2 linked regions of the Homo sapiens genome follow. The protein of the gene in region 2 interacts with the protein of the main gene of each other region in a pairwise test. Each region holds a gene or a part of one and is shown on either strand. Other genes may lie near its edges.

Region 1 (6,848 bases), on a different chromosome or scaffold from region 2:
ATATCTTTGCAGTAAAAAACACAAGCCTTTGTTAGGAACTAACAAAATAAGAATTCACTTACAACATCTAACCCATCTCCTTTACAGTAGGAACAAGAAAAGGCACAAGACGACATTGGTGAAGGAAATGCAAATTGTTGCAGCATTTGCTTCAGTGGAGAATATTTAAAAGTCCACCTTCCTAGAAAGAGGGTTAATAAAAAAAAAAAGGTATCTTAGTCATGCTGATTTTTTTAATCACACCTGACATAATTTTTAGTTAACCTTTTGTTTTTGCTTTCATTGTTGCACTTTAAATGATTTGATAAACCAGCTGACTATCCTGTATATATAAGTCAACTGCTGTCATTGAAAAGGTTGTTAAAGCTTTACGCACACATTCTTAATTCACTTAACTTTAAGAAACCAATTTTCATTCAATTTTCTCAGCAAATTCTAGGCATTAAGAAACTGATTCATCTACTGACACCTTAAACTCTAACTTGTTAGGAAAATTCATGATTCATTCTTCAAATCTGTTGTCTACAAATATATAGTACCTATATTCTAAAAATGGGAAGTCATAGATTAATACCATTGTCTGTGAACATAAGGACTCCCAAGAACTACCAATCGTAACCTGCAAAGTATTGCCCCCACTGAAAAGTGACCTTCTAAGAAGTTCCTCAGGACAGAATTTTAAGTTATTCTGGATTACAAAAACCCTAAGAATCATTATAAAAGCAAAGGGTCATGGCCAACACGGCCATAACTCCAAGTTTACATACAAGCTATCCTCAGTTTGTTAGTATTGCCCCTTTAACCCTCAAAAGGGTCCTGTTTTGAGGCAAAACTCATCTGTGGTGACAGAAGTCAGAATTGTGGTTGCCTTGGGGAGGGGGAATGTGTTTACTGAATGGAAAGGATACAAGGCCTGAAAATGTTCCATATCTTGATCTGAGTGTGGTTATCAGGGCATATACATATATAAAAAGTCATTGAATTGTACCCTTAAGATCTTTCGGTAGGTTATACATACCTCCATAAAAATACATTGTTAAAAATCTATTCAAATAATCATATAAAACCATTCTGGATCTAGCTACCAAGATGTTTTTTCCAAATGAATTTTAATAAAGACACACATTGCGAGCACTTTTATGTAGTACCTCTCAAAATATACACTGTGATTTCTAAGAATCTTTCAGTTAAGAAAGCCACCGAATTTTCGAACTGAAAGCACCCCCAAACATCATCTGTTTATCTTAATGTTGCAAATAAGGAAAATCAAAGCTACAATGGGTAAGAAATGTGCCCAAGATAAGGCAGTTAGTCAATGACAACGGTAATAACAGAACTGTTTCCTGATCTCTGGCCGTTTCTACCAGGCCGTAACTTTTCTGACATCGCAAACAAATCTTAACTCCGAATCTACCTACGGCCTAATTCAACAAATGCCTCAAAACGCTAGTCAACAGGCCTCAAAGTGTACACATGAAGACACATCTTCCTTCATCCTCTCGCCAGTTGACAAATTAATGATTACACGTTCAGGCATTTTACCCAGATGCAATAAAATTAAGAATGACATCTTAGAAAATGTGGTTCAAGAGAAGACATACGCAGGGATTGACAAAATCCATCTTACTTCCTTTCGAATCTCTTTGATGGTTACTTGGTTCTCAAACACAGATCACTGCTAACAGGACTCAAAAACACCACTTGGGACCATCAACCAGTGCTGCTTCGGGCGACCCGCTGGGAACACCCCCACCTGACCCAAGCGTCCACCACTCCTTGAGCACAAGCTCTGGGGGTGACCTGTGCCTGCCGGCTTAGTTTTAGACCCTACGGGAACAGCTGACATCTTGTGAAAAACTTAGCATAACGTACATCCTTTCCGCGGGAATTTATTTCTGTTCGCACAAGGCGTTTCTGCTCCGCACAGAGCAGGCCTTGCTTCCCAGGACGCCGCTCGCCCCTCCACAGCCTCCTTTTCAGCGTCCAAAATCGGACTTTAGGAACAGAAATCGAAACGGTCGCGGACCTCCCGAGCGGCAGGTCGGGGCGCTGCCGGGTCGGCGCGGGGTCCAGCGGCGGTGCCCGGCGGGCCGCGGCGCGGGAGAGGCCCGCTCACTTCACAACGGCGGCCCGGAGCCACCGGTTGCGGCGGCCACTAGACGCTCCGCCACCGCGCAGCGACCGCCCGGGCCCTCCGAAGTTCCGACCGGCCGCGCGCCCGGCCCCAGCTGCGGGTTCGCGCCCCGCCCGGAGCGAGCCCGGGGGGCGGGTCCGCGGGGGCTCGGCGGGCGGAGCGCGGGGCGCGCGCGGGGAGGGGCGCGCGGCGGGCCCGGCGCGCCGGGGAACTTGGGCGCCCGCCACTGCCGCCGCCCGGCCACTTTCCTTTCACGCCTCCCGCGGGCTGACGCGCGCCGCGCTGCCTGCCAGGGGCTGACGGCCGCCGCCGCTCTCCGCCGCGGCGAGGCGCCCAGGCGCGCCCCTGCAGCCGGCCGGCCGGCGCGCGGGACCGCGGGGCCGCGCGCGGGCGCCGCGCTCCCCCCGCCCCGCCCCCGCCCCCAACGTGCCGCCGCCGCCGCCCGTTGGCGCCTCAGCCCGCGCGCCCGCCGGCGCCCGGCGGTTTCCCGTTGGCAAAGTTGCGCGGCCGCTTCGAAGGGGACGCCGTACGGTCCCCCGCCCCGGCGCCGCCGCCGCCCCTCCAGGCCGCCGCGCGGGAAGGCCCAGCCGGTGGCCCCGCTTTTTTACCTGCCCGGAGTTTTCGCGCGCGCGCTCGCTCGATCGCTCGCTTTTCCCCCTCTCGCGCTCGTTTTCTTTCTTTCTTTCCGTCTTTTCGCTCCCCCGCGCGGAAGCTTTTTCCTCCCGTGCTGCCCGCGCTCGCCCGCTCGCGCCCTCCTTCCTGCTGGGTTCGGCGGAGCGGGGCGGCCGGCAGCTCTCCCCGCCCCCCTCCACCCGCGCTCCGGCGGAGGCGGCGGCGGCGCTCCGCGCTCCGACTCATTCCAATATGGCACGGACGCAGGGCGCATGCGCCCGCGCCCCCCCACCCCCAGCTCCGCGGTCCTCCAGGCAGCCTGCGCCCCTCGCGCCGCGCCCGTGGAGCTCCCGGGCCCGGCTGCCCCGCTCCCGCCCCAGCGCCATCCCTCCTGGCTGGGGCCGCGCGGGAGGCAAGGACTCCGCGGGCTGGTGTGCCGGGGGTCCGGCGCCGCGGGCCACCCACGCCCCCAGCCAGCAACTCGGCGCGGACGGCCCCGAGGCCGTGGCGCAGGACACGCGGCGGCGCCTCGGGCCCCCGACGGCGCTGTGGCCCCGAGCGGAACGGCCCGGAAGAGGAGACGCGTCCCCGGGAACCCAGTGCCCGCCCTGGCCCAGCCCCGATCCAGCCTGCGCCTCACCTCGGGTTGTAGACAGAGCGGCGGGGATCCCAGAGGGGTTCGCGGGTCGGACCTGGAGTACCGGCCCGGCGAAGCGCGCCGCTGTCGCCCGCACGTGACTGGCTCGGACAAGATGGCATGAGCGGAGAAGCGGCCGGATCCCAGATGCGCGCGTGCCGCCGCCGCGGGCACTGCGCCCGTTTGCCTGCCCCTCGTCGGGGATCGGGCGCTCCCTCTGAGACCTGAAAGGGCACCCAAGTGCCCCCTGTCTGCGAAGTCCGGCGCGGGCCCTTCGGCGCCCCCGATGTCTCTAGGCTTCCGCAGGAGGCGCCCTGTAAATCTTGAGTCTTCCTGCAGCGAGGGGGCACAGGACAGCTGCGAATTGGGACGAACGAGCCCAGAGCCCCGGGAAGGATCAGAACCTCGAAGGCGGCTTCAAGTCGGCCCCGCAGCCCGAGGTGACCGTGGGCGGTTACGTTGCCCGAGCTCGCCCCCTCCTCCTGAGCGCAGGTGCCCGTGGGACATACACCCGCCCACCTGCTCCGGAAAGTTCCCTCCAGAAGGGAGTTCCCGCGCCACCGAGACCCGGGAGCTCCCGATCAGACTCCCAGGCCGTGAAAGGCGTTATCGGACAGGGCCCAGAGGCGCCCCCACAGCAAGAAGAAAGTCTGGGGTTCTCACCGTGTGCCAGGTGCGAGCTCAAGCCACCTCCCTCAACCGCTCTGAGAAATATCCCACTTCACAAACTTGCTCAAAGTCACGCTGCTGGCTGGATTTGAATCCAGATTTTTTTTAGCACCACTGAAAAAACAATATGACAACCGGAGAAAGAAAAATCTAAAAAGAATACAGTAATCCATATTGTTACAAAGAAATGCAACTTTTCACGACATGAAACATATATATACTGTGTATAGTTGCAACCACACTTTTTTTGTTACTACTTTCACTACCATTTTTATTTGTTCACGATTCATTTTTAAGGTGTGCAGGTGTCCTTAACTATTCACTCAGCCCCCTAATGTTTTTGGTTCTTTACGGTTGTTTGCTAACGTATCCTTGAATTCTGCACTTGGGACAAATACCTGGGAGTGGAAAGGCTCCCAGGTAGAAGGCTATGAATGGCCAAGTGGTCTTGGCTTACAGCGTCATATTTTTCCCAAGAGCTGCCCCAATTATTCTACCGCCTCCAAGGAACAAGTGTAAGGAGTTTAACACACTTATAAACATTGAGTGCCATTTCCCCCCTACTTTAATAGTCTATTGCTAGTTCAAGGTTACTTAGCATTTCTTAGGTGACACAACATTCAAAAATGAATGTTTTTCCATGCATTTACTATATGCATTCCCTCTCCTGTGAATAATCTATTCATATCCATCTTCTGGGGACTTGAACCTCTTCTAACTTTGAACAAGCATTTTTTTATGTTACAGATATTACTTCTTTGTCGTCATTGATGCAAATATTTTCTAGCCTGTTGTTCTTTCTTGTTTTATTCTAATGTTCAGTGTGTCATTCTAATGTTTTAATTGCTTCAGTGCTGACAAAGTGAGCTTTCTGCTGCCCATCTGATAGTCTTTTTTCTGCTAGTTTTGTACAATTTCATTTCATATTTCATTCTCTGATGACTATCCCGATTTTATTTTGGCTTATTTATTTGGAGTAAAATATGGACATAACTCACTACCACTGTCATCGGTTGTTATTAATTCTGCAGTTACCATTTATTAAATAATTATTGACCAGACGTGGTGACTTACACCTGTAGTCCTAGCATTTTGGGAGGTTGAGGCAGGAGGATCACTTCAGGCCAGGAGTTTTAGGCTGCAGTGAGCCGTGATTGTGCCAGTGCACTCCACCTGGGTGACAGAGCAAGACTCCATCTCAAAAAAAAAAAAAAAGGCCGGGCGCCATGGCTCACGCCTATAATCCCAGCACTTTGGGAGGCCGAGACGGGTAGATCACGAGGTCAGGAGATTGAGACCATCCTGGCTAACACAGTGAAACCCCGTCTCTACTAAAAATACAAAAAAATTAGCCAGGCATGGTGGCGGGCGCCTGTAGTCCCAGCTACTCCGGAGGCTGAGGCAGGAGAATGGCGTGAATCTGGGAGGCCGAGCTTGCAGTGAGCTGAGATCGCGCCACTGCACTCCAGCCTGGGCGACAAAGCGAGACTCCAACTCAAAAAAAAAAAAAATTCCTTTGTTTAGTAAAATCTACTTTTACGCTAGACTTTCTATTTTGATTAATATATTTCTGAATTCTCCATTTCCTTCCTTAGACCTCAGTTTGAGCAAATACCATATGAATCTAAATATTGGTTCTTTGGAATAGGTTCTAACATATGAAAAGGCTTGATTCCCTCTCATGCCCTTATGAGGTCTTCTTTTTTCAGATTATCAGTTGATATCCACACTGGTTTATGTGTCTCTACACATCCTAGGATAATCATATAAGGGTTAAGAGGACTGGCTTTGAGGACGGACCATCCAGGTTCAACAACCAGCCCTGTGACCTTGGCAACTTATCTATCCCCTCTGGGCCTTCAGGTCTTGGTCTGTAAAATTAGGATAAGAGTAACAGCTGCCTCTGGCCTGGCGCAGTGGCTCACGCCTGTAATCCCAGCACTTTGGGAGGCCGAGGTGGGCAGATTACGAGGTCAGGAGATCGAGCCCATCCTGGCTAACATGGTGAAACTCTGTCTCTACTAAAAATACAAAAAAATTAGCCAGGTGTAGTGGTGGGCGCTTGTAGTCCCAGCTACTCGGGAGGCTGAGGCAGGAGAATGGCGTGAACCCGGGAGACGGAGCTTGCAGTGAGCCAAGATCGTGCCACTGCACTCCAGCCTGGGTGACAGCAAGACTCCAACTCAAAAAAAAAAAAAAAAAAAAGATTAACAGCTGCCTCACAAGCTCAACGCCTAGGACATAGTAAAAGTTTTGTAAATGTTAGCTATTGTTAATGATTTTTTTGAGACAGAGTCTCGCTCTGTCACCCAGGCTGGAGTGCAGTGGTGCAATCTTGGCTCACTGCAACCTCTGCCTCCTGGGTGCAAGCGATTCTCCAGCCTCAGCCTCCTCAGTAGCTGGGATTACAGGCGCACGCTACCACACCCGGCTAATTTTTGTATTTTTAGTAGAGACGGGGTTTCACCATGTTGGTCAGTCTGGTCTCGAACTCCTGACCTTATGATCCACCCGCCTCAGCCTCCCAAAGTGCTGGGATTACAGGTGTGAGCCACCGCACCCAGCCTTTTTAAAATTTTTTTTGAGAGAGGGTCTCACTCGGTCACCCAGGCTGCAGTGCAATGGTGCTATCATGGCTCACTGCAGCCTCTACCTCCCAGGCTCAAGCAGTCCTCCCGCCTCAGCCCCGAGTAGCTGGGACTACAGGTGTGCACCACCATGCTCAGCTAATTTTTGTATCTTTTGTAGAGACAGGATTTTGCCATGTTGCCCAGGCTGGTCTTGAACTCCTGGGCT
Region 2 (7,547 bases):
TTTCTCTGTTTGAAGGACGCTTTCTGCTCATGTTTGCCTCACTTACTCCTACCTACCATTTAAGATTTGGGTCAGATATCATCTCTTCCCAAAGCCTTCCTTTAACTCCTAGGCTAGTCTAAGTGCCCTCACCTTTGGGCAACCTTTACTCTCACCTTGTATATCTCAGCTATGCGTAGTTCTCATCTTTTATTCTGAGATAATCTATTTAAGCATCTAATTTACCAGCTCCACAAGATTGGAAATCTTTGTAAACCCAGCTGAGCACAGTACATAGCATAGTGCTTGACCCATAGTAGGTACATAAGTGTACAGTGAAGGTTAGAACATACCAATTTTCTTTTCTTTTTTAAAAGATGGGGTCTCATTCTGTCACTTGCTATGGCGTGATCATGGCTCACTGAAGCCTCAAACTCCTTGACTCAAACGGTCCTCCTGCCTCAGCCTCCTGAGTAGCTGAGACTACAGACATACACCATCATGCCCAGCTATATTTTTATTTTTATTTTTTGTAGAGACAGGGTCTTGCTACGTAGCCCAGGCTGGTCCAGAACTCCTGGCCTCAAAGAGTTGCCTGCCTCAGCTTCCCAAAGTGCTGGGATTATAGGCATGAGCCCCTGCATCCAGCCCTAAGTTTAAATTTTCAGTGGGATATTCACATCAATTCTTTCTCATAGTTAAGTATCCTCTACCTTTCACTCCAAGTCCTTTGCAAGGAAGGAATCAGGGCCTTTCCTCTGGATCTGTATAGTTCCATTGAGAATGGTGCTATGCAAATGTTTACCCAACTTACATAAAAGGGAACAACATTTGCACAAACATACCTAAAATCAAAACTTGACATATGTGCTACAAAGTTCAAAACTATTGACCAATTTAAAAAATGAAGGCTTAAGAACAAAAATAAAGAACCAATTCTGACTGCTGGTATGTGCTTGTCTAAGTTGTAAAAACACTGAAACTTTGCTTAGTACTTAAACAGGATCCCAGATGTAAGAGCCTGGCCTTTTATCTACAAGGCCATCTCATCTCTACTGGGCTTAAAACATTACTAACCTGCAGAGTTGCTTAGGCAAGAGTTTAGGAGGTTGGTAAGTAAGCAACAAAAAGTGTTCTCTTTCATAGTAATTTTGGGCCTCCTGCTGGCAGTTAGAACTAGAGCAAAGAGTTCAATGTAATAAAGCATTTCCCTCTGCAACCAAATATTAAAATTGCAGTTTGGCACTAAACTAGGTCTCAATCCTTTTCAGAGTTTAAAAAAAAAAAAAGAGCTATTCTATTTGCCTGGCACATTACACTTCAACAAAACATTTTGATGTACATTAGTTAGCAACATTTGATAAAGTGTTTATAGACATTTTTTAAAAGGAAGGAAACCCCCAAATTTCCACAAAATAAGATGTCTTTTAGTTTGTTTGAACAAACACTACTAAATGTTTTCTTTTTTTTTTTTTTTTAAGTTCAAAATACAGTACAGAAATGAGGAAGGGAATCTAGAGTACTTTTGATTTAAGCAGGTCAATCCTTGGGGCTGTTTCTTAGAGAAACTTACTACGTTTTGTCTCCAGGATCACTTTTAAGAAACTCTCCTTTAAGGGGATGGGGGAAACTAAAGCTCATCCAGAGGACAGTTTAGAGAACCACAGCAGATGAGAGACAACTGAAGAAAGTGGAAGTGAAGACTCAGGGGACATGATTACTATCTTCAGATATCTTAACAGCTTCCCATAAGGGAAAAGAACTAGGAAGGATGGGAGCCAGCTGTTTCTTTCAACTTATAACCAAATGTGTCCAGGAACAGAATGGGTTTCCTTTAAAGAGATTCGCTTCGGATCACTGGAAGAGGTTCCAAACGGGCTCGTCAAATTATCGGGGGGATTTGGGGATTTTCAAAGTCACTTTGGCATGGGATGGGAGAAAGCGCCCCTAGATGACTTTTAAATTCTCTTCCAGTCAGGAGATATTCCGGGGTTCACCCATCGGCTGGATACCACTTTCGATGCTCTCGGGCTGGCACACAACTGTGCCCACGTGTCTGGCCCCCAGGGCCGCTGTGGCTCACTTCGGTGCGGGGCCGCTCTCCCTGCCCGTTTCCGGCGGGGCACTGGGGCAGGCGGCACACGTGAGTCGGCCAGCCGGGGCCCAGCCCCCAGGACGCTGCTGACAGCTCCGGGCCCTAGGCGCCCCAGCTCTCGGTGGGGGCCACGCCGCCCCGTCGACCTCTGTCTCTGCCTTCCCCGAACCGGGACCCGGCCAGCCAGAATCACAGGCATTCCCACCTCTGGCGCCGGAGGGGACCGACTGACCCGCGCAGACGGGGTCGCGCCGCCGCCCGGCCCTCGGCCCCCAGCCAGCCTGCCCCGGCCCACCCGGCCCCGCCGGCCAGACACGGCGACCTATACGGACCGCCCCCACGCCGACCCTCCAAAGGGCCCCCGGCCTTGGGTTTCCCGTGCCGGGGCCCCCGGGCAGTCCTGGCGGCGTCAGGGCCGCGACCGGACCGTGGGCCCCGCCCGCCCGACCGCAGATGCAGAGCCGGCCTCCGGGCTCGGGGCCGGGCTGACACGGCCGAGAAAGGGCCCAGCCCCGCGCGGACCACAGACTGGCAGGCCGGCCAGACAGACGGACAGGCTGACCCCGGCCCGGGGGAGCAGGCGCAGCGGCTGCGCAGGTCCCGCCACCGCCTTCTGGCCCCAGGCGGCCCCTCAGGGCACGAGCTCTTAGGCGGGCGGAGGCGGCCGCGAGGCGCTTACCTGAGGGCGCGGCGGGGGCGCGGGGCGGCTCACTCTCTTCCCGCCGCCATGTTTCCGCTGCGCAGGGAGGGAGCGGAGACGCGGGAAGGGGGCGGGCGGGCGGCTCGGGAGAGCGGCGGGCGGGCGGCGGGGGGCTCCACCGAGCTGGCGGTGGCGGCTGAGGCGGGGGGCGGGGCGGGGGCTCCCCCGGCCCCTCCCCCGCGCCTCCCGCTGCGAGGTGGCGCGCGCCTCGGCCGTTGGGCTCGCGCGGGGGGCGGGGCGGCGCGCTGGAGGAGGGAGGGCGCGCGGGAACCCGGCCCGGCCGTACCCCGCCGGCCTGCCGACCCGGGTCCGGGGGCCCAGTTGGCGCCCGGACCAGCTCTCCGGTCTGCGTCCTGTAGATGGGAAAACTGAGGCCTGAGAGGGCGCGAGGGCGGGGACGAGGCCGAGGACTCGGGTTCGAATCTCGAGGACGCCAGTAGCCCGCTCTGAGGCCGCGTGGGGCTGGTGGAGGAGCCACCGGTCGGGCCCCCAAGACCGGCTGACGTGGGCCTCGCCTCGGGCGACTCCCGCCGGGCTAGTGGCTGGCCGTGTGGTGACCTTGGGCGAGTTACTTCGCACAGCCACCCAGGGGCCTCTTCTCCAACACGATAGCACTGCACCCGGAGGGTAGGTGAGAGATGAGTTGGTGCTTGGATGCCCTAGGGAGTGTCAGCGTCCTCGGTCCTCCCTGTGGTGATCCCTTCAACGAGTACGCACTGAGCCCGTGATGGGCCAGGTACAATGCACAGGCTCATTCTTCCAGGCCCACCAGCCATGTTGGCTACACAATTCTATTTTTGTTTTGTTAGAGATGGAGCCTCACTTTGTCCCCAAGGTCGGAGTGCAGTGGCGCCATCATAGCTCACTGTAACCTCAAATTACTGGGCTCAAGTGATCCTCCTGCGTCAGCCTCCCAAAGCGCTGGGACTACAGGCGTGAGCCACTGCGCCTGGCACACAATTGGTTTAACCACCACATCATTTTAGCAGCTTAGGAAACTGACGTCTTGACTTCTGTTTTGGCTGCTTGAAAATACAGTGCAATATAAATCCCGAGACCTCTGCTGAGCTGGATGTGGAGTGGGTGTGGGCATCATTTAGAACATGGCAATCCTCAGGTCACACAGGAATGTCTTGTTAATGATCCTTCTGTGAACAATGTTCCTTGGAGGGAAGTCCACTTAAGCAAGGCTGGAGCAGCAGATGGGGCAGCTGAGCCTGGATTACTTGCCTTGCCTCTAGAATAGGTCTTAGAGCTTTGGACTGAAGGGGGGCCGCCTCCTTGTATCCTGGTATTGGTGTCAGTATCCGTCTGCCCATTCTTGAGAAATGGAAATGGTCAGAATCTATCCAGGTTCTGATCTGCATCCCTGTTGTCTAATTTAAACTTTCATTCCATGGCGTTTTGGGGAGTACCTGTCTCATGAAGAGCCCTGAGGTTACAAGGATAATTAGAGCCTAAATCTAAGGAGCCCATATTTGGGGAAACTATTATGTCAATAGCTAATGAGAGCACAGTGTTGTAAGTGCTCATATTAGTTTTCTATTCCTGCATAACAAATTGGCACAAATTTTGCAGCTTAAAGCAACACCCATTGATTTACTCACAGTTGTGTAGGTCGGAAAACTGGCATGGTGTGGCTGGGTTTTCTGCTCGTGGTGTCATAGGCTGAAATCAAGATGTCTAGCACCTCCACGAGGGAAAGGTCTGCCCCAGGCTCCTTCGGGCTGTTGGCAGAATTCATGTCCCTGTAGGACTAGGATCCCACAGCTACACTGTTTTGCCAGCTCTCTGTTGGGGACCACTCTCAGGTCCTTGCCACGTGATCCCTTTTATCTCATCAACAGAGAACCTTTCTCATGTCACTCCCTCTCATTCTTTAAATATCTCTGATTTCCCTTCTTCAACCAGTCAGAGAACACTATGAGCTTTTAAAAGACTTGTAATTAGGTCAGACCCACCTAGATAATCTTCCTACTTTAAGATCACCTGTGCCACATCACATACCCTAATCACAGGAGTAAAATTCATCATAGCCACTGTCCCAGGGACTATGCAGAAGGTGTACATGAAGGTTAATCTAGGAAGCTACCTTAGAATTCTGCCTACTACGTCCAGTGAGAAATGTTCTCTTGAACATTTTCTCTATGAATTCCCCTAGCAGTTTGTTCTGTAACTCTGTCCATGGCACCATATATGTTGCCATTATTGGAGTATATTTCTAAACCTCTTTTCTAGGCTGAAAGCGTCTTGAGATCAGGAACCTTATTCACACCTGTAGCCTTAGATAAGGCTTGGCATGAGGGAGATATTCCCACATCTGCTAAAAATAAATAAATATTATGCATATTGTCCTTTGGATTCCTGCTTTTTTTTTTTTTTGAGATGGAGTCTCGCTCTGTCATCCAGTTTGGAGTGCAGTGGCATGATCTCGGCTCACTGCAAGCTCCATCTTCCGGGTTCACGCCATTCTCCTGCCTCAGCCTCCTGAGTAGGTGGGACTACAGGCGCCTGCCACCACGCCCAGCTAATTTTTTGTATTTTTAGTAGAGACAGCGTTTCACCATGTTAGCCAGGATGGTCTCAATCTCCTGACCTTGTGATCCGCCCTCCTTGGCCTCCCAAAGTGCTGGGATTACAGGCGTGAGCCACCACACCCAGCCTCCTGCTTCTTTTTTAGATCCAGCTCAGAACTTCTCTGACACTTCTCAGGAAGAACTCATTTCTCCCTCCTCTCCACTGTCACTTGGTAAAAATCTCTGTGTGAAATGTTTCCCATTGTAGTATTTTAAGTCAGACTGTAGTTTCCTTGAATATAGTACTTTGCTTTTATTCCACTTAATATTCCAGGGCACAGCATAATGTATTAACAGTTCTGTGCTGTTCAATTAAACAACTAATTACACATGGGTGTTATTAGTTGCTTAATGTTTGGATTTTAATAAGGGGGGTTAAAAACCAAGAGGCAACTGGAGAGTGGAATTGGGCTATGACAGACCCTGTGACCTTTGGGTTACAGGTGTGGGGAAGCCAAGAAATACAGAGGCAATGGAGAGGGAAGAAATAGGCAAGTTAATCAGGATGTAATTTTTTTTTAAAGGAGGTATGCTAGGAAACCCCAGGTCTGCTCTTTTCTACATTACATTACAGCAAAAAGGAGTGATTATTCTGGCACTGACAGAACTGACAAAAACAGTAGTTTTTGTTTTGTTTTTTGTTTTTGTTTTTTTTCATGTTGTTGATGACCCAGTAGAAGAGTTGGTAAAGGAAATGGGAAAGATGGTTTCTGATGCTTAAAGAAAGTATGTGTGTTGCGGGGTGTGGGGGGGATGCATTGAAATACATAAGAGCCTTCACCACATTAAGTCCTACACATCAATTAAGACTACCTTCCCCAGGAACTTCCTCTGATACCTTCTCTTCCATCCTCACCCCAGGATAAATTAAATGCCCCTCCTTTCGCTCTCCTTGTAGCCTGGCACCTTCATTCATCATTGCATTTACTAGGATCTGTGCATATCATTTTCATTTATGCTTATCTTTCACCTGACTGTAAGCTCCACAGATTGGAACTCTGTCTTTGTTCTTCATTACATCCACAGCACCTCGCACCATACCTGGAACACATTTGGTGATCAGTCTATATTTATAGAATGAATGTGCACAGTAGGACCCTTTCAGACCCAAGCCACAGACCAAAGAGGCAACCTCCTTATTATCTGCCTTGTGACCACAGGGCCCCACTGGCTGTTCAGATTCAGACATGTGCTGAGCCCAAACCTTGTTGTTTATCTAAGACGCTTCTGCTCTTTCTCCTCTTGTAAAATACAAAGTAAAAATAGTTCCAGGAAGCTGTGTGGTTAAGACATTCCAGTCTCTGAGCTCCTAGATAAAGGCTGTTATTGTTAGGAAGGTGGTCATTAATCCAACCTGCCTTTTCTGTATGCTTTGGTTTCACACCCTTCTAAAGGTACTGATTCTTTGTCCTCAGTTTCCCTTAAGCCTGTCACTAGCCGGTAACTGGAAAAAATAATAACTTTACAGCAGTTGATGTACGAATGATCTAAAGGTATCAGTTGATCACAAGTTTGCTTTATGCTCTGGAATTGTGACTTTAACTTATTCTCAAAGTGCCTTACCAGATGGCTTATATCCTCATCTATAAAATGGAAGAAATGACACCTACCTCACCAGATTATTGAAGACTGAAAGAAAATAAAGTAGAAAGACCTCCTGGCACACAGTAATGGCCAAGAAAACGTCATAGATTGGAATCACAGTTTGGAATCCCCTCACTTTGTTCTGCTATGGCCAGACTTTGGGCTATTGAGTTTGTCCTAGGCATTATATTTTAAAAGAGTGATGTTGACAAATTATGACCCAGAAGCAAATGACCAGATAAGGAATCTGGAAATCAGACTTTATAAGGAGCAGCTGAAAGGAGTTGGGAACATTTAGCCTGCAGAAGAAATAACTACTAATGGGAGTAGAGTGGGGTAGGGCAAGGCCTTAGAAGGGTCTTCAGATAATTGAAGGGCTAACATGTGGAAAAGGATTAGGCCTCAATTCTATTCCACACATATCTATGGAACTCCTATTATGTGCCAGGAACTGGGAATGCAAATAAATGTAAAGTACAATCCGTGTCTTTAAGGATCTCAGTCTACAAGGGACCATGACAATGCAAAAAAGGCTATTACAGAGGACTTTGCAATGTCCTCTGTAATATGGAGAAGGCAGAGGAGGGTTCATTGAGCCCAGAGATACTGGGGA

Evidence for each region. The genes of interacting proteins can lie anywhere in the genome.
Region 1: the proteins of SCMH1 (region 2) and SFMBT1 interact in binary tests that used the Homo sapiens proteins (3 or more experiments, as listed by UniProt).

What each region holds. Positions count from the first base shown.
Region 1 is NC_000003.12:53,043,074-53,049,921, forward strand, and holds the start of SFMBT1 (scm-like with four MBT domains protein 1), read right to left. Parts: upstream 3,001-6,848; 5' UTR 2,743-3,000; intron 1-2,742. UniProt on the Homo sapiens protein: Histone-binding protein, which is part of various corepressor complexes. Mediates the recruitment of corepressor complexes to target genes, followed by chromatin compaction and repression of transcription.
Region 2 is NC_000001.11:41,239,306-41,246,852, forward strand, and holds the start of SCMH1 (polycomb protein SCMH1), read right to left. Parts: upstream 3,002-7,547; 5' UTR 2,754-3,001; intron 1-2,753. UniProt on the Homo sapiens protein: Associates with Polycomb group (PcG) multiprotein complexes; the complex class is required to maintain the transcriptionally repressive state of some genes.